Linked DNA regions of Homo sapiens. The protein of the gene in region 3 purifies or fractionates together with the protein of the main gene of each other region. This does not show direct contact. Each region holds a gene or a part of one and is shown on either strand. Other genes may lie near its edges. The genes, in order: PPP6R3, MYO6, ARRDC4, UBE3C, PJA2, LRP4 and SMC2.

Region 1 (3,500 bases), on a different chromosome or scaffold from region 3:
ACTGGAGCTGTGGGAGAAAGACACTCTCACCAATGAGGGCAGGAGCGGACAGGGCACAGCCACCTGGAGGGCACTCTAACAATGATCCCACATTCTCAAACCTCCCATTTCTTTTTATTATTATTTTTTTGAGATGGAGTCTCGCTCTGTCGCCCAGGCTGGAGTGCAGTGGCACGATCTCCGCTCACTGCAAGCTCCGCCTCCCGGGTTCACGCCATTCTCCTGCCTCAGCCTCCTGAGTAGCTGGGATTACTGGCACCCGCCATCACGCCTGGCTAATTTTTTGTATTTTTAGTAGAGACAGGTTTCACTGTGTTAGCCAGGATGGTCTCAATATCCCGACCTCGTGAACCGCCCGCCTTGGCCTCCCAAAGTGCTGGGATTACAGGCGTGAGCCACCGCGCCTGGCCTCAAACCTCCCATTTCTAACAACTGTTCCAAAAGAAATACTACACAGAGATTCAAAGCTACATGCACAAAGAGGGATTAATGTTAATTTCTTAGTTTTGACAAATGTACCATGGCTGTATTCATACTTGGGGAAGCTAAGTGAAGGATATATGGAGACTTACTATCTTGGCAATGTTTCTATAAATCTAAATTATTCAAAAGTAAAAAGGTTATTTTTCTAAAAAAAGAACATGTTGATTATTCAACTCCAATAAACTAGAAATAACCTTAATGCTTCCCAGTCCGGGTCTGACTGCACTTCGCCCATTCTGCGGGCTCCCTGCAGTGCACTGCAGTTAGGCTTCCTAAGTCCTGCAGAACCAGGTCTGGCCTCAGAGGCTGAAGCGGCAGGACTTGCTTGAGCACACTTACGGTCTGTGGGGCTCTTCTTACTATGCTGCCTGCTGGCCAAGTTTGGGTCTAATCTGCAGGTCTCTCCTTAAATGTCACCTCCTCAGACATGTGTCCCTTCTGATGAAGTCAGGTCACTGTGGATCTGCTCTAACTGCACACCATGCTTTTCCTTCACAGAGTGCTGAATCCTCAATTCTTTGCTGGGGACAAGCCAGATGTGGGAACCACTGCATTCCATCAGGGATATTATCATAATTAGGAATCTCTAGGTTGCAGGAAGGAATGCTAGGGAAACTGGTATAAGTTATTTAAGGGCTTAACCCAGACACAAGTGACTAAGATTAAGAAGTACCCGTGTAGAATAGAAATGTTCTGAGTTTAAAGACAGACTTGACTGTGACTTTCCCCAAGATATCTGACTTCATCTGTTTGATTTCATAATGACTATTCACTTAGCAAAGATCACAGGAGGGCCTGCACAGAGTAGGCATTTAATTAGGGTGCGCTCCATGCTTCTTGCCCACCTACCTGTGTGAGTGTCACAGGGCTCCACTGACACCAAGAAGGAATAAATGCTTGAATGTTTGAAAATCTCACCTGAAACCTCCAAAAAGTCAACTTGACAGTTATTTTTGCCTGCCCACTCTATGCAAAGCTCTGGAATCATTCTATCTGAGTTCTACTCTACAACTAAATTATATTACACACAAATGACTTTTCTGTTATCTCTTTGAGATAGTCTTTCCCAGATGAGCTCCTCAGAGTCCGTGTAACATTTTAAATGATTCTGAATGTCCACAAAACCTCCAACAGAAGCCACAGAGACTGGTGGAATGGCAGAGGCTCTCTGGGGCAACCCTGTAGCCCTGAAGCCCTGAGAGAGAATCTTCCCCAACCCTACCCACTTGTGTCTCCAGAGATCTGAAGATGCAAAAGCTGTCTTTCCCAAGGAACAGAGAAGCAGGAGGCCTGGTTCCCTGCCACACTTAACCCCGGGAGGTAGGTAAACGCGAACCTCATCCAGGGTGCTCGCCTCCTCGCTGCTTATCCCTACACCCAGGCCCACAGTCACAGCAGCAGCGGCACGCAGTCCAGCCAAGTGTGTTTCCCTCCCTGTCACTTAACCATACCCAGCCTGCTAAAAGAACCAAAGATTCCAGAATGTCATTCGGCCTTCGAACAAAAGGAAATCCTGTATACACCACAGCAGGGATGAACTCTGAAGACATTATGCTAAGGGAAACAAGCCAGTCACAAAGATAAATACTGTATGATTCCATTTATATGAGATCCCTAGACTAGTCAACCCCAGAGAAACAGAGAGTAGAATGGAGGCTGCTAGGGACTGGGGAAGTAGAAATGAGGAATTGTTTAATGGGTACAGAGTTTTAGTTTAGGATGAAAAAGTTTTAAAGACCTGTTACACAACAGTGTGAATATACTACTGAACTGTACTTTTTTTTTTTCCCCAGATGGAGTCTCACTCTGTCGCCCAGGCTGGAGTGCACAGCATGATCTTGGCTCACTGTAAGCTCCATCTCCCAGGTTCAAGCGATTCTCCTGCTTCAGCCTCCCGAGTAGCTGGGACTATGGGTGTATGCCACCATGCCCAGCTTTTTTTTTTTTTTTTCAGTAGAGACAGGGTTTCACCCTGTTGGCCAGGGTGGTCTCGAACTCCTGGCCTCAAGTGATCCGCCTGACTCGGCCTCCAGAAAGTGCTGGGATTACAGGCCTGAGCCACTGCACCCAACCTTGAACTGTACATTAAAAAAACCAACAACAACAACAACAAACCCTACAGATTCCAGAGCCAACAGATCAGGGCATCTGCCCTGTCTCCTCCTCACACCTCCCTGCTGCCTGGAGCCCATCTTGCAGTTCTCATTATTTCTCATGTGTAACAGTTCAATGTCTTCATGGTTCTCCTGTCTCTACCATGCGTTTTCTCGTCCATTTTTCACTGTTGCCATGAATGTCTTGAAACAGAACCAATAATGATCTTCTTAGTCAAATCCTCAAGGGCTCCCTACAACCTTCAGAATACAACTCCTGATCTGGCCTCTGGCCTTCGCTCCCGCCACCTCATCCCCGAGCCATGCAAAACAGCACGTTCTGGGCATTTGGATTAGCTGTTTTCTCTCTCGCACGGGCAAATCCCTACGGGTCCTTCAGCCTCATACCCACCTGCCTCTACAAAGAGGCCTAATGGAAGGCTCCCCTCTTCTAGCACCCTGTACCCATTCCCCTGCACTGCCCATCTGCTTCCCCAGCCGACCCCAAGCCCCTGGAGGCAGAGTCTGTGGCCCGTTCACAGTTACAGGCCTAACACCTGGCATACAGTAGGAACTTGACAAAGGCATGTTGACTGAAACTGAATTACGGACAGAAAAGTCCACTTCCTCCTCCTGAGGGTGGGCTGGAAAACAGGCAGCAGAAAGAAGATCTCTCTTCTTCTCCCATCCCGTTTCCTTATCTGCAACATGTGGCAGTTTGCTGGATGACTGATCTGGTCCCATCTAGCTCTGAAGTCACCACAAGGTCCACCCTAGCTGGGCTTCAGCCTCTGGGATGAACATAAAAAAGGCCTTGCAGGGCAATCAGAGACTGGCCAGGCTTGGGGCAAGCCTCGCTATCAGCCCATATGGCTCCTTCACATGAACGTTTGTTTCCCAAACCTTTAGAAGTTTTTGAAGTAT
Region 2 (3,500 bases), on a different chromosome or scaffold from region 3:
CATTATCTAAAGAAATCTAAGTTTTTGAAAGTTTTTAAGATCTATAGAAATGACCGGATCTATAGAAACGGCCGGGCGCTGTGGCTCACTCCTGTAATCCCAGCACTTTGGGAGACTGAGGCGGGTGGCTCAGCTGAGGTCAGGAGTTCGAGACCAGCCTGGCCAACATGGTGAAACCCCGTCTCCACTAAAAATATAAAAATTAGCCGGGCATGGTGGCACATGCCTGTGATCCCAGCTACTCAGGAGGCTGAGACATTAGAATCGCTTGAACCTGGGAGGGGGAGATTGCAGTGAGCTGAGATCATGCCACTGCACTCCAGCGTGGGCAACAGGGTGAGACTACATCTCAAAAAAAAAAAAAGATCTATACAAACATGTATTTATACATTTTTACTATTTGTATAATCGTTAAAAATTAACAATTTTAACTAATATTAACTAATCACCTCCGAATGAAGCTAGTTAAAAAGCTGAAACAGGCCAGGCGCGGTGGCTCACGCCTGTAATCCCAACACTCTGGGAGGCCGAGTCGGGCAGATCACGAGGTCAGGAGAGCAAGACCATCCTGGCTAACACAGTGAAACCCCATCTCTACTAAATAAGAAAAATTAGCTGGGCGTGGTGGCGGGAGCCTGTAGTCCCAGCTACTTGGGAGGCTGAGGCAGGAGAATGGCGTGAACCCAGGAGGCGGAGCTTGCAGTGAGCTGAGATGGCAACACTGCACTCCAGCCTGGGTGACAGAGCGAGACTCCATCTCAAACAAACAAACAAACAAAAAGCTGAAACAGTCATTACAATCTAATTTAGGTGCGAAATTTAACACTGCATTGTCTTCTCCATACAATGCTATAAGCCCCAAATAAGCTTTAAAAAAAAGTCAATGAAGAGATTCTGGTAACATATTTCACTTCCCTCTACCACATACTGCCTGGTTAACCCAAGCAAATTGTCGTTAATCTTGTTGAAGCCCTCCCTAACCAAAAGATAAAGAAAAAGTTTAAGCTAGTAGTTCTCTAATTCCAGTTTGCACATAAATCAAAAGGGAAGCTTGCCAACATAGTGAAACCCCGTGTCTACTAAAAATACAAAAATTGGCTGGGCATGGTGGCACGTGCCTGTAGTCCCAGCTACTCGGGAAGCTGAGGCAGGAGAATTGCTTGAACCTGGGAGGCAGAAGGTGTGGTGAGCCAAGATCGCGCTACTGCACTCCAGCCTGGGCAACAGAACGAGACTCCATCTCAAAAAAAAAAAAAAAAAAAAAAAGCCAACTTCAAGATTCCAACCAAATCACTAATATATTGCTCTTCTTGCTTTTCGATGAAAATTCCACATTAAACATGACAAAAAAAAACACAGTAACAACAATAATAATGAATGTACACTATGTGCTAGCCAGTGTGATCTGTGTTTTACATGTATTATTATCTAATTCAATCCTCATAAGAACCACACCAGGTAGGTAATATTGTTACTTCCATTTTATAGATGAGAAAACTGAAGCCTAGAGAAATGAAATAATTTGACCAAGTTAATGAGTGACAAAACCAGGATTGCCTCAGGTCTGCCTATCCTCTTACCCAGGAGCTGGACAAGAAAGCACTGTGCTTAAACGCAACTCTGGAACCCCAGGGCTGTCAGAGAGAGGATTAAGCCTGACGACCAAGTAGTTAGGCAAGTAATACCCTCCCATCTCCTTCCAACCCCAATTCCCACCCCTCACCCAACAAGCTATCCTGACTCCCCACACCCATCACTCCCACACCAAGGTCGCCCACCTCTGTGATGTGTCACACATCCTAGCAGAACATCAGAAGTCTGTCTCTATGTGTGTGTGTGTATATATATGTGTATACATATATATACACACACACACACAGACTTCTGATGTTCTATATGTATATGTATATATGTTCTATATGTATATGTGTGTGTATACATACACACACATATATTGTGTATATGTCTATATACATATATACACACACATATGTATGTATGTCTATATATGTATATGTATATATGTCTATATACATATATACACAATATATGTGTGTATATATGTGTGTATATACATACACACACACAACACACATAAGTACTCTTGTATATACATATATACACATATATACACAATACATATTGCGTATACATATATATACACACTATATATGTGTGTATACATATATACACATATATACACACTATATATGTGTGTATACATATATACACACTATATATGTGTGTATACATATATACACACTATATATGTGTGTATACATATATACACATATATACACACTATATATGGTGTGTATATATATGTGTATATATATATATATATACACACACAACACACATAAGTACTCTTTCCACATTAGTATCTACTACCTGCTTAGTACTAGCAGAGACCCAAATTCCAGCACCACCAAATAAGCTTGAGCAAATTTAACATCTCTGCCCCTCAGTTTCCTAATCTGTAAAATGAAGGTCATAACACCAGCACCACTGAGGTGACACAGTGATTGAGCTAATGTATACAAAAATACTCACTTGGCATAATATCTGACATGGTAGTAAAAGCTCAATAAACAATAGCTGCTATTGGCCAGGCACAGTGGCTCATGCCTGTAATCTCAGCAGTTTGGGAGGCGAAGGCGGGCAGATCACCTGAAGTCAGAAGTTCGAGACCAGCCTGGCCAACATGGTGAAACCCCACCTCTACTACAAATACAAAAATTAGCCAGGCATGGTCGTGAGCACCTGTAATCCCGGCTACTCAGGAGGCTGAGGCAGGGGAATCGCTTGAACCCGAGAGGCGGAAGTTGCAGTGAGCCAAGATTGCACCACTGCACTCCAGCCTGGGTGACAGAGCGAGACTCCGTCTCAAAAAAAAAGAAAAAACAATAGCTGCTATTAAAATTATACTTTGCTAACCTCTTCTCTTACAACACCAACATATCAGTCCTAGTCCCATTTGTTTTTTGCTTGCTTGTTGTTTTTTTTTTTTGAGACAGAATCTGGCTATGTTGCCTAGGCTGGCCTCAAACACCTGGGCTCAAGCATTCCTCCTGCCTCAGCCGCCTGAGTAGCTAGGACTACAGGTAAGCATCACCGTGTCCAATTCTAGTTCCCATTTATTTTCTCTCAGTTTTCTTTGCTAAAAGTGTGATAAATGATGGAACATACTTATATTTATCAAAGCAGGTTGGTAACAGCGCCATAACCCAATAGTCTGGGAGTCTTCGACAGATAGGTCAGAAATATTCCAGAGCAAGTAAGTCATGCAGTAGCCTTTAAATTGCACAATTTTGACAACTGCCTATTTCCCAACTTTAGGGTCAGCCCTGTTGATTACATCCTAGTATGAAGAGTCTATAATTAACTTAATTCAAAACAACAATAAAATGTCAGTACAGGGGCTTGGTCTTAATTTAATCACTGTATCCCTAGAACTTAGAATAGTGCCTGGTCCGTGGTAGACACTACAGTACGTTTTA
Region 3 (3,500 bases):
AAGTTTTTATGACCATTGTGGGAATTGATTTAAAGGGATTTGTCTTTGCCAAAAACAGACACTGTTGATCCCTTACGATTCTTTATATAAATAAAAAAAAAATATTGCAAGTAACTGGGTTTTACAGAAAGCTTTGGTGTGTGTAACTCGTAAACTGAACATTGTAAATCTTGTAGTAACTTCTCTTGCCACTATAGAATAGAATACTGCAGTGAGAGGGTATGTTTAATAAGCTTTTCAGATCGGTTAACACTACACATGTTATTGCACTATTACACAAAACCCCAAAACCACTCCAAATTAAGAACACATGAAATTTCTGCTTGATAATGCATTTTGAAGTAAGTGGTGGGAAAAGGCTGTTTGTTTATTCCACTTTATTAAATGCCAAAATAAATATAATGTTCTGATTATTTTTTATTTTTATATCATTTATCCTTCCACCTGACTTTTATATATAAAGTCTTAAAAATAATTCTGTCATGTTTATAAGTCCTAATACAGCTTTTGATTTTTTTTTAAAAAAATGGTATATTATTTCCTGGAAACATAATGACTTCAGGGTAAAATAAGATGGTGTCATGCTAATTTTTGAATCTGAAAATTCACTGTAGTTTTCCTAAAAGGGGAGTCTTAACACCCTGTGTTTTTGTGCATATTTGGCCTAATATGTTACATGAGGATAAGAAAGTTTGATTCATTTTTTTGGTATTTCCTTACAACCATTCTGTGAAGATAGATATAATTTTAAGTTCTATGAGTTCTCTAGAGTGGCTTAATTAAGGTTGTTTTATTGTTTGAAATTTTCAAGACCCCTGTATTGAAAACTCAAGAGAAAATGGTTGGCTGTTGGTTTTTCACTTCTGGTCCAGTCTCGCTGAGTGCCAAAATTGAAAGAAAGGGATACTGTAATGGTAAGCAAAATGCTTGAAAGTCCAAATGAAAGATTTCATTCATTTTCTTAGCTAATTTTAAGTGATTTTAAATAGTGTTTTTTGTAATTATATGACGTGTATAGTATTTTAAAACATGAATAGTGATACATTTTTTATATAAATAATTGATATTTAAGTATTTTTAAAAGGAGGAATTGTTTCCAGTCAAACTCCTGTTTTTTTTCTGACTTCAATCCTGTTACTTTAGTAACAAAGAGTATAACTAGAGGAATGAGAAAATGCCAGCATCTGATTTTAATGTTGCAAAAGAATCTCCAGGGTTGTATTGCTAAAAAGAGAACTACTGGAGTATGAAATGCTATTAGACATTCTGATTCCATGCTGGCTTGATATATGCAAATGCATGGGACTGGAATGTAGTGTATTAACAAACTTAACAATCAGATTGTTACTGGAATTGCCATTAGTGAAGGGCCCATTTCCAGCAGTGGATTTGGCCCCTGCTCCAGGATTCTGACTTGTTAGAAAGGAATTCAGTATGGAATGGTATGATGTGCAGCCATAATGTTATAAAACTTGCCTAATCCATCCGTTGATTCTTTCTGTGCCTTAACATTATTAATTCCTTAAAAGCAAAGGCTTTGTTCTCCTGTTAGGCAGATTTTAATTTGATAAGCACTAATGAGTTTGTTAGTGATCTTTTATACTTAACATAGTCCTGAATCATTTATTTGTATGTCTTATCCTAATTTATATAGACACTGGTCATTTACATATCTTTAGAATTGCTAATGCAATATTGCTACTTTAGAAAAGTCAATAATGCAATAATTAGAAAATAAGATCTACCACAACCTGCAGTGAATTTTTATTTCTCTGGCTTGAATTTACAATATGTTTTCCATCAAAGCTTCTCAATTTGTTAAAGTGATGTTGGAACATTTCAGCTATACGGCCCTAATCCATTGTGGTGAGAACTTTTTCAAGAGTCTCTGAATCCTCCCTGGTTTTGTTTTCTTTTTAGGAGAAGCTATTCCAATCTATGCAGAAATAGAAAATTGTTCCTCTCGTCTGATTGTTCCAAAGGCTGCTATTTTCCAAACGCAGACATATTTGGCTAGTGGAAAAACAAAGACCATTCGACACATGGTCGCCAATGTGCGAGGAAACCACATCGCTTCTGGGAGCACAGACACATGGAATGGGAAAACGCTAAAAATCCCACCTGTTACTCCATCCATCCTGGATTGCTGCATTATCAGAGTGGACTATTCCTTAGCTGTAAGCAAAGCTCTTTTTTAAAAAAAAATGTGTATGATGGACAATAACTGATGTCATGTTACTGTGGGTATGTAGAGTTGCCTATAAAAATGTCATTTTATTTCAGCATTAACACCAATTGGGGACTGTATGAAGATTGGCCCTTGTTTTTAATAAAACCTATTCCCCACAGGGGATTTAATAGAATGCCATAAAAGAATTGAGGTGCATTAAGGGGTGTTTGTTATATTGAAGACATAGCCTTAATTTTCTATAATTATTATATAAGCCATGCAAACCTACAATGATGCATGTTAAGGACACAGTTCTCTGTCACAGAGCATTCACTATGTTTTGTGTACTCTTCATTTTGTTTAATCAAGACAATTGAGAATTGTGATGGGGGTGGTGGCAGCCGACAAAAGCATTTGTTTCTATGAAAAAAAGAAATTAATTGGGCTACCTACTGGAGGTGTAGCTTACATTTGTTCCTTTCTCTTTTTTTTTTTTTTTTGGCTTATTAGGTATACATTCACATTCCTGGTGCTAAAAAATTGATGCTCGAACTGCCATTAGTGATCGGTACAATTCCATATAATGGTTTTGGCAGCAGAAACTCCAGCATTGCCAGCCAGTTCAGTATGGATATGAGCTGGTTGACACTGACCCTGCCAGAGCAGCCTGAAGGTAAAATATGTTGGCGTTCTTTCATAACGAAGCTTTACCTAGAAAATACCTAGGAACAGAATATATACACTATTAAGTGCTCAGATGTTGATGAGTACTGCTACTATAGGTATCTTTATTCCTACTACTAAAAAATCAGAAAGCATTAGTCCTGGGAGGGACTTTGAAAGTTTAGCTTTATCTAGGACGCAAAGCTGCTGATAGCAGATTCAGGAATAAGATGTACATTTCCTAATTCCTATTTGTAATAGGAAAACAATGAAAAACAGTCAAATGTATGGTGTGTTATGTCTTTTCTATAGTCATATTTCAGTGATATTTGTTTACCTATATCTCAAGAGACTAGAATAGAAGCTATTAGTAGTAGTTTAATAAAAGGAGAATCTATTTTTTATTGTAATATGCATAAAACCTTGCTGATTAGAGGGAAAGAATGCCATATTTTTTATCTTCAAGTTTAGCTGTTTCTTGTTTTTGTAGCAGTTAAGAATCGAGATTAATTTTTGAGTGGATTTCTTAACTCCAACTTCATTTCTATTTCAGCACCACCAAATTATGCAGATGTGGTATCAGAGGAAGAATTCTCTAGACACATTCCTCCTTACCCTCAACCCCCTAACTGTGAGGGAGAAGTGTGCTGTCCTGTGTTTGCCTGTA
Region 4 (3,500 bases), on a different chromosome or scaffold from region 3:
TAATTAATCAAAAGTACTAAAATTACTTTTCTTAATTAAAAAGGTATATAGGCCAGCTGCAGTGGCTCACGCCTATAATCCCAGCACTATGGGAGGCAGAAGCAGGAGGAATCCATGAGGCCAGGAATTTGAGACCAGCCTGGGTAACACAGTGAGACTCTGTCTCTACAAAAAAACTAATAAATTAGCTGGGTGTGGTGGCATGTGCCAGTAGCCCCAGCTACTCAGGAGGCTGAGGTGAGAGGATTGCTTGATCCCAGGAGTTCAAGGCTGCAGTGGAGTATGATGGTGTCATTGCACTCCAGCCTGGGAGACACATCAAGTCCATGTATCAAAAAAAAAAAAAAAAAAAAAAAAAAAAAAAAAAAAAGTCTTGCAAATTAAAACATGTCTGAAACAAACCTGCATTTTTATTCCTCTGCAACGAGTCAAGACAAAAGTTTGTACATTTTTCAATGTCAGTAAACAAAAAAATACATATACTCTATACCTTAAATAACTGAATCCATCTTTTCTGTTCCATCTGTATGCATTGTTGCATTTCAGAGCTAGTAGTAACTCCAATACTCTGAAATGCTGTAATATATTCTTCTCGAACTTCTGGCTTGGTTTCTGGATAAGCCAACTTGATGATCCCCAGGCATGCATCTCGAAGGCATCGAGACAACATTATCAGCTCTTCTAAAGTAAAAGGCATCATTGATGATTGTCTTTGACCTACAACTAAAAAACACAATCCAGTTTTCTATTGTTTCTTTTTCCATCTTTTAACACACACTGAAAGACTTAAAAAGCTTAAAACTTTTCTACTGTCTATGAAAACTGATGGGCCAAGTGGCCAGCAGCAAACTGGTTTCTCAAAATCCTTACCTTCTATGGGATCACCGAAGAATTCGTTATCATGTATGGAAATTAGTGAATGACTAAACAAGGAGCTAAAAAGATAAAAGAGTGGGATGATTCGACTAGAATCTTCAAAAGACATAGGAGAACCCCTGGATATCACCTGAAGCAACGGTACCATAGACCTTGAATTAAAGAAAAGAAGAAAAAAACCAGTCACTTTAAAATTAGTCTTAGTTTGGGAACTAATTAAAACATAACATCAAACAAATATAATCAGGGAAAGTAACATTTGCATTAGGAATTAAACTATTTAAAGGCAAGGTAAAGTCACCATGGCAATGCAGGTTAATAAACAGCATAGATTAATACAAAAAATAGCATACCAACCCATTAATCTTCACTAAGGTTTCTGCTACCTGTACCAACTAGATAATGAAGTTACTAAGAGTAAGCCAGTCGTTCCCAGACTAAGGCCCTAAGAAGAGCTCTAATAAGGCCACTATTCAAGACACACATGTACTTTACTCTTATGAGGAAACCATCCCCCTTCCCTTCTACTCAACATATTTAATAAAGGCAAATCATTCTGGTCTCAGGAAAAATTTATCCAGCGACTTAACTTTTGGTAACGTTGAAAGCTATTCAATATTGAAGCCAAACTGGAACCTCAAGAAACAAAGTTTCCAGTTCTCTATGGTGGCCTTGCTCCCACTGTCCACTTTATTCACCAGCTCCCATCCTGCTCCTGCTTTCACAGCAGCTAAGGTGGTCTTTACTCAGCAGCCTTTCACCCATCAAGAGCTATGATATATTAAATTAATTAGCCAGGTGTGGTGATAGGTGCCTGTAGTCCTTCCTAGTTACATAGGAGGCTGAGGCAGGAGAATGGCTTGAGCCCAGGAGGCAGAGGTTGCCATGAGCTGAGATTGCGCCACTGCACTCCAGCCTGGGGAACAGAGCCAGACTCTGTTTCAAAGAAGTTTAAAATATTAAGGAAAAAAAAAAAGAAAAGAAAAAAGGCTGGGTATGGTGGCTCACGCCTGTAATCCCAGCACTCTGGGAGGCCGAGGTGGGTGGATCACAAGGTCAAGAGTTCGAGACCAGCCTGGCCAACATGGTGAAACCCCATCTCTACTAAAGATACAAAAAATTAGCTGGGTGTGGTGGCACGTGCCTGTAATCCCAGCTACTTGGGAGGCTGAGGCAGGGGAATCACTTGAACCCGAGCAGCGGAGGTTGCAGTGAGCCGAGATCGTGCCATTGCACTCCAGCCTGGGCAACAGGGCGAGACTCCGTTTCCAAAAAAAATAAATAAATAAAAAAGAGCTACGATATATTAAATTGACTTATTTCACCTAGAACTTCTTCCTTTTCTCTCGTTTTTAAGTCTGGTTCCTTGTCTTATGGAACTTTTAGCTAATAGGCTCACCTGCAAGCTCTTTCTATAAAGTCCATGGTCCCCTCTACCAAGTCAAATCAATCACAGGTTAACAGACACTGTGAGCAAGATCACTCTCTTATCTCCCCAAATATCCATTTCCACAAAACTACAGGTATATATTAGATGAGATGTAACCAGGAGTCAGGATCTACAAATCATGTATGAAAGCAAAGCAGAAGGTAAGGCCACTTGTTCTAATTAGCGGGGCCGTAAGGAGCTTGGCTGAGCCACCTGGAGCTTCTGAGTCTCCATGGTGCATGGTTCAGGGGAGGGCACTGCCATCATCAACCGCTTTGAGAAAAGGAACCCATATGTGCACCTGAAACTGTGTTCCCACAGAGAAGATACACTATGTCCACATGCTACACAACCTGAGCATACATGATCCATGTTTGCAGTTGTGATACTCTGCATTTAGCACTATGCTGAACAGATTCATCAATGAATGAATGCCATTCTTCCAAAATTTAAACATTGTGGGACATTCAAAAAGGGACAAAGCACAATTGTCCTACCTCATTGCCAAAGCCAGGATGACACAAAAAGGTTGTTTATATGGAGGATAAAAAAGGCACAGGGCTGCCTTAACTGGACAGGGGTGGCTTCTTTCAACAGCCCTGCCTATGACAGCTGGAGCCCACTCCTGCGTCTTGATGAGCCTGCTTTCCACTGTTATCCCCGACAAGAATCCTTGTACTTGTACTGTTATCCCTGACAAGAATCATCACCACCAACACATCATCAGTTATGCACACATATTGCAGGATGCATAAAATTCTTATATTGGGTCCAAAAAAAAAAGGGACAGGGTAATTAACCAACAAAAACTTATTTGTCCTCTTCAAACCCCCTGTGAAACAAGCAAAAGGAATGCATCATTTTTACTTTAATGACAAAAACTGGGATTGGCAAGGATATGTGCCAATGCTGCCCTGCAGACAGGGCACAAACGAGACACAGGTCTCTTAGTTCTCTGCTGACCATTCTTTCTGCTATAAACACTGACTCAAATATTCCTCTGAAAACAGGTCAGTCTCAAAGACTTATGTGCAAATAAAGTCTGCAACTTACTGTAATGGAAAAGACACTGATTCACACATAACTCAGGGGAGCTAGGTGAATTACTGACCATCAGTGAGACCCGAGGCAATCCCTAACCTCTGTCTAGATCTTGAGAACAAGGGTTTTCAAATTGCGTGCCTGTGGGAACCAC
Region 5 (3,500 bases), on a different chromosome or scaffold from region 3:
TAAAACATTTTCACAATGCCTGATAAATAATGAGCCATCAATAACTGTTAGCGAGTCTTTTTTTAACATTTTTTTAAACTCAAATACATTTAGTTAGGATAAGCAATAGCCATTAAGTCCTGAATTTGATGTGCTACCTATATTTTCTTAATTTCCATTAACATAAATACATAATGATTAAATTAAAAACATTGTGTACCACTTAATATATTTTACCCACTTTGGAAATAGTGACCTATAGAATAAAAAGTTAAATGTCTTTGAATAACACTTATAATTTACTGCTATCTGATCCCAGTACTTTCTTGCATCCAACTCAAGAATGCTCTATTTCAAACAGTGTCCTCAAAGTGGGCATTCTTGCCATCAGGAATATCTTTATAATCACTTCACCTTTTCCCCACTTCCAAACACAGATCAGACTCTATTTCTTTCAAGACCTTCCTGTATAAAATCGCTTCTTTTGTTTTTCAATTATTTCATGAACTAGACTTCTTGTTTACTCAGTGCAGCTCACTACAACACAGCTGCTTCTTTAACATTGCAATTATTTTTCATAATAGTGCAGAGAAATCAAAGAAAATGGGTACTGAGAAAAGACAAATGGATGTGGAAATCAGGAGGTCACCACTGACATTAAAGAATATAGGGCCGGGTGCAGTGGCTCATGCCTGTAATCCCAGCACTTTGGGAGGTTGAGGCAGGTGAATCACCTGAGGTCGGGAGCTCGAGACCAGCCTAAGCAACATGGAGAAAACTGGTCTCTACTAAAAATACAAAATTAGCTGGGTGTGGTGGCGCATGCCTGTAATCCCAGCTACTCAGGAGGCTGAGGCAGGAGAATCGCTTGAACCTGGGAGGTGGAGGTTGTGGTGAGCCAAGATGGTACCATTGCACTCCAGCCTTGGCAACTAGAGCAACACTCCGTCTCAAAAAAAAAAAAAAAAAAAAAGAAAGAAAGAAAAAAAAATTAGCCAGGCATGGTGGTGCACACCTGTAGTCCCAGCTACTCAGGAGGCTGAGGCAGGAGAATTGCTTGAACCCAGGAGGTGGAGGTTGCAGTGAGCTGAGATTGCACCGCTGCACTCCAGCCTAGGTGACAAAGCGAGACTGTCTCAATAAAAAAGAATACAGAAATAATATTAGGAATTAGATTTCAAGGCAGTAAGAAGAGTGGATAGTGACAGAATAGAGACAGTGGGTATGGAAAACTTTTTCTTAAAATTCAGCAGTAGAAAAGAAAACACAAACAGGCAAATAACAGAGCAAGAAAAAGTAAAGGTTTTCTTCAAGATTGAGAAAAACTCAAGGTTGAGAGACAGAGGGAAGCAACCTGTGAGTAAGGACAATTAGATGAAGTGTCAGAAATAACTAGAGGCACAGAATGAGAGGGGCTACCTCTCTTCATTGAAGAGGAAATTAAAAATACAAATAAATACTACTATCCCCTAATATGGAGAAGAGGAAAATAAGAAAATTCACATTTACATATTTTTAACTTCTACAGGAAAATAAGAAACGAAGCTAACCATTAGGAGTGACAGGAGTACATGGAAGGAAAAAAGGGAAAAGATTTAAAAATCACTTTTTAAGGAGTAAGCAACAGAACAAATAGGACACAAAAATGATCATGGAACAGTGAAGATCCATTTGTTCTAGATTTTAAAAGCGGGTGAATGACACATTTAAAAGTTCTCAAAGTAAAAACTAAATTAAGTACTACTTTGATCTTCATATGATCCTTCACTGGTACTGATCCCTTTTAGCACCTAAGAGTTGTATTTAAAAAGCAGACAACTATAATTTACTCAAATGTTACACTCTACACATTCAATTGTGAACTAAAAAAACTTGATATACAGAATGAAATTATAGACAAAATTTATGTACAAATCCTAGGCAGAAATAAGCTATGGAAACATAAAACCAACCAAAAGTAATCTCTCATTCCATAATTCCCCAAGGTACTTGTTACTTTGTTCTTCCTGGCATTTATCACAGCCACAAGAAACTCAACTACAGGAGCCTAGGAAAAAGTGAAATTTTAAATATTTTGTTATCTGACATAATCTAAACATTCTGGAACTTTTTACCACTATTAACACTGAACTGTAATGTAATACAGTGATATGAATGGATTATGTCCAAATATATAAGTCTGCTTAATTTCATTAAGATGGCTATGATTTTTGCATTGTGCCTGCTTTTTGTCACTTTCTGGTCTTTTTCCTTAGTATCAGGTTATTGTAATCCCATGAACTCCCTAGCATATCTGCAGAACAAACACATTTATACCTAATGTGCTCCTTCCAAACTTCTATGAACTTGAAAACAAGATAAAAAGGTTTGCTAAAATGTCAGCACATATGCTTTAAGATCTGTGCCTTGGCTGCATATAGATGTTTTATTTGTTGGGGGTAGTACCAAGTTCTCAGACAAACTCTTTCTTTGTGGCTCTCAGGTAACCTACACGGAACAGGAAAGGCGCTTAATTCAGCCTCACAATAATAAATACGTATATTTTGTCTTCTTCATAAAGCTAGTGAACCTTGTGGGAACAGGGACCATTATGATTTGTATTAACAGGGCACCTGGAACAAAGTCTGGCACTTAAGATTTCAACAAATCCTTTAATATATCATATTGAAGTCAACTAAATGGCTAACAATCATTTTATTTCCCAACATCATCAACAAAGTAAGTTGTCCCAACATTTTACCTTAAGTAAGGTTTTTAAATTTTAAGCAAAGTTAAGTCCTAAGGCCACAAAAATTCTGCAAGAAACCTCAAATGCTATAAGTAAGGAACAGACAGTAGATGGCATGCCTCTCTTCAGAGCAGTTAGGCCCAAGGTTAAGATATGCTAGTATTGCTGAAAGGTTTTTTTTAAACTCAAGATCTTGTCCTCAAACAGTTACTAAACTTCTCAGGGTATATTTCAAAAGAGCAGGGTATTAACCTTAGCTCTTTGGTCTAATTCTAAGTCTGGTAATTATATGCTGCCTATTAAAATTCCCCTTGGAATCCTAATTTAATAAGGTGGTGCTCAGTACCTGTCAAACAGCTCAGAGCAATGCTACTGGCTGCAATGTTTATCCCACAGAGTGTAACATTTCAGATGTGATTAAATGATCATTTAGAATTTTTCAGGGAAGAAGGCAATCATGAATTCATTAAAATACTTTTCTACTTAAAAAGAATATATAATTCATATTTTTAAAAAGTAGCCAAAATTCCTATATCTAAAAATGCTGGCCGGGTGCAGTGGCTCACGCCTGTAATCTTGACACTCTGGGAGGCTGAGGCGGGTGGATCACTTGAGGTCACAGGTTCAAGACCAGCATGACCAACATGGTGAAACCCCATCTCTACTAAAAATACAAAAATTAGCTGGGCATGATGGCATGCCTGTGGTCCCAGTTATTCAGAAGGCTGAGGCAGAAGAATCACTTGAACCTAGGAGGCAGAGGTTGCAGCGAGCCGAGATCACGCCACTGCAC
Region 6 (3,500 bases), on a different chromosome or scaffold from region 3:
AAAGTTTAAGGTGCTTATTTGGATGCTGCTAGTCCTTGGGGCTTTTCCTAGAGCCTATTGGTTTGGACTCAGCCCACATAACTCTCCAACCTTAAAGATTTTGGAAGGAAACTTGATGGCTGGTAATAGCCCTGAGTGATTTTCATCCTGAAGTTTGAAGTAAGGGCATGGATGACAACCATTGGAAGAGTGGAAAGTGTGTTTGTTCTAGAGGTCTCATCCAGGTAAGGGAAATGTTAAAACTTCTGCCTAGGCGTGCTTGGGTAGATAGAAGGTTGTATCTGAAAATAAGTGCAGAGCAATTGAGCTGAGACTGGTCTCCTTTCCATCTCGCTGTTGTCGTGACCAGGGTTGTCATGGTGCTTGAGTGACCTTGTCCCTGATCTGTTGGGCTTGTGAAACATACTTGGCTTGTCACTGATTTTGGATTTCCTCTTCTGTACCCTGATGAATATCAGATAACATCTTTTGGACTGGCACGTGGTATTAAGAATGACAGGTGCAAGGGAACCAAGTCTGGCCATGTCTGATACAGAGCACGTTGGGTATGTCCATCTTCTGGGCCAGCAAAGAACACAGGAGGTCACAGAGGACACGGTGTTTTATAGCTCTTTGCTCACTCTTTCTACCGATTAACTGCCAGTCTTAACTGTTAGAAGGAAAATAGGAGAAATTGTTTATGTTGCTGCCCCTTTAAAGAAAAAAAAAATACTGGGGGTTCCTGAATAGGAACAGAATTTCAGGGACTACTTTAAGAAGTAATCTTGTCTTTTTTATGATTGGGTAAGATTACGAGACAGTCTGTGCCCTTGGTTGACTAGGTCTGTTAGCCTGTTCCAGCCATGGTCTCTCTACATTCCTTGATGCAGCTTAGCCACGAGTTTTGTCACAGTTGCCTGGACATGGGGCATCTGGGCCCCAGACTGTGTCTGGACTGCCATCTCATCTTCAGCAGCGGAAGCCCTCCTCCCCTCCTCAGCCTGTGAGGATTCAGTGTCCCAGGGAAGACTCAGTGCTGACTGGTTAGCTGGCAGAGCCTGAGTTTGACCTTATAAATAGTTCTGATGACTGCATGGGCTTGTCACTCTCACTCCAGCTTAGAGCTGGCAGGAATGAGTTCCTCGTACAATCGGGAGCATTCCTCAAACTAGGCTCCACACCCATTCACTTGTTCATTCATTCAGCAAACACACATATGTCAAGCATTAATATAATCACTGTATACGAAGCTCAGCAATTAAGAAGCACCCACAGACCTGGGTTTGAATCTTGGCTCTGGCAATTCTTGGTGACCCTGTGCAAAATCTCCCTGAACCTCAGGGTTGTTACCTGCAAAGGCGGGTAGGGTAGGGGAAGGGAAGTAGTAATAGATTATCACATAGGAATATCATAAAATTTACCTGAGATAATAGCATGTTCAAACTATGCAGCACAGAGCTTGGCAACTACTGTGTTACTGTAGAGCTTGATAAAAGTTAGCTGTAAGCAAAGTCACCTAAGTGGATCCGAGATGATTCTTGGCTTTAGAACATGGGAGCCAGGTAAATAATTATGCTACCGTGTTCTGTGCTAAAATTGAGACTTGGTCCTTCATTCATTGCAGCTGGTCTTTTGCTTGTCTCTTTTAAAGATCTGCCCCTTCTTTCTCCCCTTGAAAACGTGATAGAACCGAAGCATAGTTCCCACTTGTGCCCACTCCTAGAAAAGAAGTCTGCTAAGCTATAACATCAGTCTAGGGGAACTCATGTCGCCTTAGTTCTCTTGAGAGAGGTCTGGGGAAATGGAGCTTTTCCTCTGAGAGTTTCCCTTCTTAAGTGGTCAGGGATGCAGCCTAGCAACTTCTCCTGCTAAGATTCCTGTGACATGGGGTGAGAGGGGCTGGCCAGGGACTCTTGTAGCTGGAACAGTTTAGAATTCCAAGCCCTCCCTCCCATTGGCCTGAGAAAGGAGTCAGGCTCCAGAGCTCATAAGGTAGTAATTGCCCCAATTTGGGAGCTGGGCTGTTGTGGAGCCTTCGCAGCTACCATTTTCAATCAGGAAGCCTGTCAGCTTGCAGGCCTAATTGATGTGGGTCTCCAGCCCCGAATAGCCCCCAACCCCTAGTTCCTCCACCTCAAAGTTTGACCCCTGTTGTCTCTTTTGTTTCTTCTTTTTAAGTTGGTGCCAGTGATGTGATTTTTGGGAGCTGCGGAAAGTTGACCGTAACCAAGAGCAGCTGTTAAAAAGAGCCAATTCTCTAGCTTCCTGACGGTTGTCTGCCTCCATTTTCTGTTGTGCGTTTTTGATTTAGCAAGAAGCAAACATCCTAGGTGCCCTTGGGCGCCTCTTACGCCCATCCAAGCAGACTTCATTCTTTCACTGCTCGTAGGCATTCCCATTCTTGCTCACAGATGAGCGGACTGGCTGTTAGCGCTCCCTGACACCCTGTTTCCCCATGCGGAATAGGACTCCCCCATCATTCAGGTTCGAATGAGGGGAGGGGCGCTGTCTGGGACCCAACTGGGGATAGCCTGGCTGGGACTTGCTGCAAGCCCTGACTTGGCCTATGGGAGCTCCCCCTCACCTCTATGCACAGCTGAGGATCAGAGCGGCAAGCAGAGCCGGAAACAAAAGACTGGGAGCAAACCTCCCATCTAGCTGAGAGGCAGTGACACAGAGGTGCTGCTGCATAATTTATCACCGGAGGTTTTCTGGAGCCGGGAAGCTCCTGGCTCCAGGCAGTGCCTTTTTGCGGGAGAGGGACCCTCCCTCTGTCTGGGTGTAGGGCAGAGCAGGTACAGAGAAGGGTATCCAGAGAGACACCTGATTAGCATGTGAAATAAAGAAGCTGCAAGGTTGTAAGTGCCTCCAGGGATCTCTCCAAGCTCGGCAGCTCCACTTCCTGTCACGCCTTGGGGGAGGTGGGGAGGGGTAGTGGCCTGCAACCACGCGCTGGCATGGATGAGGACAAGAGACAGCTTCTCTGTTGAGTTGACTGTAGCCTCCTTCTAACCAAGTGGAGAGGCCAGGTTATGGCATCCACAAGCCTAGCAAATAGGAAAGGGGAGCCCCAGGTTTTCCACCCTCCTTCCACGGGCAGTTTAAACAATAAGTTTCAACTACAGGCTCCCAGAGCCAATAAAAGCCAACAACTCTACAATGTATCTTCCCCAAATGAGAATTTCTGCTCTTCTAGGAATGATCTCCTCCAATGACAATTTTTGCAAATTGTGGGATATGTGGATTTACAAATTGGGATATGTGGTTTAAAAAATCCAAATGTATTTCTGGAGCAGTTAGCATTTTTGAGAGCTTTGCTGTGTCCCTGGTACTGTGATAAGCATTTAGTATATGATATCATATTTATTCCTCACAATATCCTTATGAGGTAGGTAACATTAGATTCCCGTCTTACATTGGCCAGGTGCGATGGCTAACGCCTGTAATCCCAGCACTTTGGGAGGCTGGGGTGGGTGGATCACTTGACGTCAGGAGTTCGAGACCAACCTGGCCAACATGGT
Region 7 (3,500 bases), on a different chromosome or scaffold from region 3:
ATCTGGTAGTAGTCAAGTTCAAAAAGAAAAAAATGCATTTAAAAGTCAGAGGTTTTAATTAAGGTGTGAATATGTGCCTCATTCAAACATAGATCAGCTATTTCAAATTTCTTATAGAGTATAACTCCACTGATGATATTTTTTCATCCTTGCAACCTCATATAAAACAAACATAAAAAGTACCTTTTGCCATGCAATATTTAGGGCTTGGTTTTTCTTCTGGTCAAGGTCTTCTATAGTTGTAAGAATTTTGGATTTGTCATTTTCTACAATTCTCTTCTTCTTCATCAAGTCATTGTACTATGAGATAAAAAACATGGTTAACTGGGAAAATATAAAATCTCTTCTATATTCTGGAATTTGGTCAGAAATAAACAGTTTTCATTATTTTTATATACAATACATACATTGCTATTTACCAAAAAGATATAATGCACTAAGAATTATATATACTCATATACTATACATATACTGTATGATGTGTGTGTATATACACACTCATATACACACTCTTAACAAAATTAGGAATAAAATCATCCATATGTATATAACTAAATTACTAGAACTAAGAATTTATAAGACAAAGTCCTTAAAATATTTTGACTCCACTAATATTCCCTTATCTCCTTAGCAGCCAAGGCAAAAAAAAAAAAAAAAAGTGTTACATATAAACTTAAGTAAAAGGAGCCCTGAAAGCTCTCCTCTTAAGGTCAGCCTTAGCAGTGACATGAACAAAATTTTGATCCTTCACCATGATATATAGGAACCACATAAATTGGACCTTACTTTTTTTTAATTTTAAGTTTTGGGATACATGTGCAGAATGTGCAGGTTTGTTACATAGGTATACATGTGCCATGATGGCTTGCTGCACCAATCAACCAGGTTTTAAGCCCTGTATGCATCAGGATAAAGGGAATTGGACCTTATTTATCCCTTGACTTTATGGCATTAAACTCCTCCCCAGGTTCTGGCCATATGGTCTTTTACAGCTCCTTTGAACATAATAAACTCACTATTGTCTTATGGCCCCTGCACTATTCTCCCTTCCTGGAATGCTCTTTCTCTGACATAACGGTTGCCTGAAATTTCAGCTCAAATATCACCACTTTAGAGTAGTCTTCCTTCAAGCAAGGCTGTAGAGGGATAATCATACCATGAACAGCAATGGGACTTCCTAAAACTCTTCCTAATTCATTTCTCCTCAAAGCCCTACATTTCAAGGAGGCTTCACATTCACCTTTAACAATTCTAGTCAGTCCTGCTGTTTTCCTTGCTGTCCCTCTTCTTTACAGCCACGCTCCCCTAACCTTCTCTCTACATTTTTATCTTATTTTTTCATGAAAATCCATGTAATTGCTTATGTAGATAGATACAAAACACAAGAAAAAAAAAGGCCATCTGCTGATCAACAATATAGGCTTCTCCTCTGGTAAAGAGATGGGAGTTGATAAATTCTTTTGAAAAAAATATTAGACTCAGGTCTCATCTAATAGAAGTAAACGAGTAAAAGTGAACAAGTTTCATGTTATGCAGATCAAATTCAGACCAAAGTTTTCCTTCTACAAATATATCACATATTGCAAAGCTTTAATGTAGAAATGAAAACCAGCAGGAGCATTTTCTAGAGAGATCACAATACCTGCATGATTCATCTGTTTGGTATCTAATATAATATAGACTCTTTGTGCATATTCATGCCAAAAACAGTTAAAAAAAATTATGGTAAAATTTCTTCAAAGTAACTGTGCTATTATCAGTGTCGCAGATTTCTCATGAATTTTACTCTGATTTGCAAATTCAAACAGAATTTTCCAGCATTCAGGAAGGTATGGGGCATTAATAGGGGCATTAATATAAAATTACTAAGATAGCCATTTCTTATGGCTATCTTAAGAGTAGGGAATGCTTCCCCCACTGGGTTTTTCTAGTGATAGGTCCTCCCAAGTTCATCACTAGATGACAGTAAACTCCCTTCCCAGACTCAAAGTTTTGTCAGGTTAGGGAAGAATAACATTATTGAGTAATTGAGAGCATTAAAACTGAGAAGAGGCTGCAGAATTTACAGATCAGTGAAACAGTATTTATGTGTATAATGGCTTTAGTCATTACTTATATAGTTTCAGTATACAGTAGAGTCAAGAGGATGACAGAAGTATATCCTATTCAAGGCTTTTCAATGCAAGTGAAAGAAATGAAATGATAGAAATGTGAGGAATTATGTTTGACAAAGAACAAAAGCCAGTGAAAAAGTCATTCCAGGTGTAATAGAATGTAAAAACAACTAATGATGCATAAGAGTAATAAGAAAAAAATGACGAAAAGAGAAAAAGGAAAGCAGAAAGAAAAGTATCAAGGACATCTGCAAAAGGTTAACTCTAATAATTGCATCAGAGGTCATACAGAGCTGTCAATGCTAGTCATGTTCTAATGCGGCCAGATATTCATAAGAAATTGACTTACTCGCTCTTCAGCTTCTGTCAATACATTCATAGCTCTCATATTGACATTTCTTCCTAGTTTCTCCTTCATTTCTTGCAACTTCTGAAGTCTCTGACCAGCTTCTTTAGGGTTGTTAGTTTTGAAATCATAGGCACTATTGGGTTGGCCAAAGAGGTGTCTCTCTGCATTAATCCAGTCATAATCTTTCAACATTTTGGATACCTAGCCACATATAAAAATAGATGGGAGATCTATGAATGTTTACAAACCAATATGTATAAGCCAGTTTCTTAACTATTTAATACTTTTGAATCAAATACTGAAGAGGAAAAAACCTTCAATGACTAATTTTTTTTTTTTTTTTGAGATGGAGTTTCACTCTTGTTGCCCAAGCTGGAGTGCAATGGCGCGATCTTGGCTGACCGCAACTTACACCTCCCAGGTTCAAGTGATTCTGCTGCCTCAGCCTCCTGAGTAACTGGGATCACAGGTATGTACCACCACGCCCAGCTAATTTTGTATTTTTAGTAGAGACGGGGTTTCTCCATGTTGGTCAGGCTGATCTGGAACTCCCGACCTCAGGTGATCTGCCAACCTCGGCCTCCCAAAGTGCTGGGATTACAGGCGTGAGCCACCGTGCCTAGGCGACTCATTTTTAAAAATGAGTTTCATTACTGACAAGAATAAAGATGAATATTTTTACCTGGAACACAGACTACAGAAACAAGACACTGTATAGCAAAAGATCTTCCTATTACTTTGGCATTAGAAGAGCCAACTCACAGAGAAATTTTTACGAAGTATACGCAAAGCACCTCCATTAGAATGAAATGTAAGTCAGGTAGAACTCCTTCAGAATTTACCAAATTCAATCTATTGCTTCAAAACACAACTTATGAGAAGCTAAAACTCTTTTAATACTTAAGTCATAGATTTGGTAAAAATCATGGAAGCCTAATGCTGACTGAGACCTAATAATTTTTCTCTCAGAAATATATTCTAAGAAACTGCCCTAAACATTGACTCTATCCTGCTCCCCACCTTTTGAAAAAGGCACA

Evidence for each region.
Region 1: the proteins of ARRDC4 (region 3) and PPP6R3 purify together in Homo sapiens (affinity purification with mass spectrometry; one large-scale study listed by BioGRID and IntAct). This does not show direct contact.
Region 2: the proteins of ARRDC4 (region 3) and MYO6 purify together in Homo sapiens (affinity purification with mass spectrometry; one large-scale study listed by BioGRID and IntAct). This does not show direct contact.
Region 4: the proteins of ARRDC4 (region 3) and UBE3C purify together in Homo sapiens (affinity purification with mass spectrometry; one large-scale study listed by BioGRID and IntAct). This does not show direct contact.
Region 5: the proteins of ARRDC4 (region 3) and PJA2 purify together in Homo sapiens (affinity purification with mass spectrometry; one large-scale study listed by BioGRID and IntAct). This does not show direct contact.
Region 6: the proteins of ARRDC4 (region 3) and LRP4 purify together in Homo sapiens (co-immunoprecipitation; one large-scale study listed by IntAct). This does not show direct contact.
Region 7: the proteins of ARRDC4 (region 3) and SMC2 purify together in Homo sapiens (affinity purification with mass spectrometry; one large-scale study listed by BioGRID and IntAct). This does not show direct contact.

The regions. Positions count from the first base shown.
Region 1 is NC_000011.10:68,596,752-68,600,251, reverse strand, and holds part of PPP6R3 (serine/threonine-protein phosphatase 6 regulatory subunit 3), read right to left. Parts: intron 1-3,500.
Region 2 is NC_000006.12:75,755,739-75,759,238, reverse strand, and holds part of MYO6 (unconventional myosin-VI), read right to left. Parts: intron 1-3,500. UniProt on the Homo sapiens protein: Myosins are actin-based motor molecules with ATPase activity. Unconventional myosins serve in intracellular movements. Myosin 6 is a reverse-direction motor protein that moves towards the minus-end of actin filaments.
Region 3 is NC_000015.10:97,967,203-97,970,702, forward strand, and holds part of ARRDC4 (arrestin domain-containing protein 4), read left to right. Parts: intron 1-811; coding exon 812-914; intron 915-1,920; coding exon 1,921-2,177; intron 2,178-2,680; coding exon 2,681-2,843; intron 2,844-3,386; coding exon 3,387-3,500. UniProt on the Homo sapiens protein: Functions as an adapter recruiting ubiquitin-protein ligases to their specific substrates. Plays a role in endocytosis of activated G protein-coupled receptors (GPCRs).
Region 4 is NC_000007.14:157,204,926-157,208,425, reverse strand, and holds part of UBE3C (ubiquitin-protein ligase E3C), read right to left. Parts: intron 1,029-3,500; coding exon 871-1,028; intron 724-870; coding exon 491-723; intron 1-490. UniProt on the Homo sapiens protein: E3 ubiquitin-protein ligase that specifically catalyzes 'Lys-29'- and 'Lys-48'-linked polyubiquitin chains.
Region 5 is NC_000005.10:109,371,975-109,375,474, forward strand, and holds part of PJA2 (E3 ubiquitin-protein ligase Praja-2), read right to left. Parts: intron 1-3,500.
Region 6 is NC_000011.10:46,912,051-46,915,550, reverse strand, and holds part of LRP4 (low-density lipoprotein receptor-related protein 4 precursor), read left to right. Parts: intron 1-3,500. UniProt on the Homo sapiens protein: Mediates SOST-dependent inhibition of bone formation. Functions as a specific facilitator of SOST-mediated inhibition of Wnt signaling.
Region 7 is NC_000009.12:104,128,809-104,132,308, reverse strand, and holds part of SMC2 (structural maintenance of chromosomes protein 2), read right to left. Parts: intron 2,665-3,500; coding exon 2,464-2,664; intron 301-2,463; coding exon 184-300; intron 1-183. UniProt on the Homo sapiens protein: Central component of the condensin complex, a complex required for conversion of interphase chromatin into mitotic-like condense chromosomes.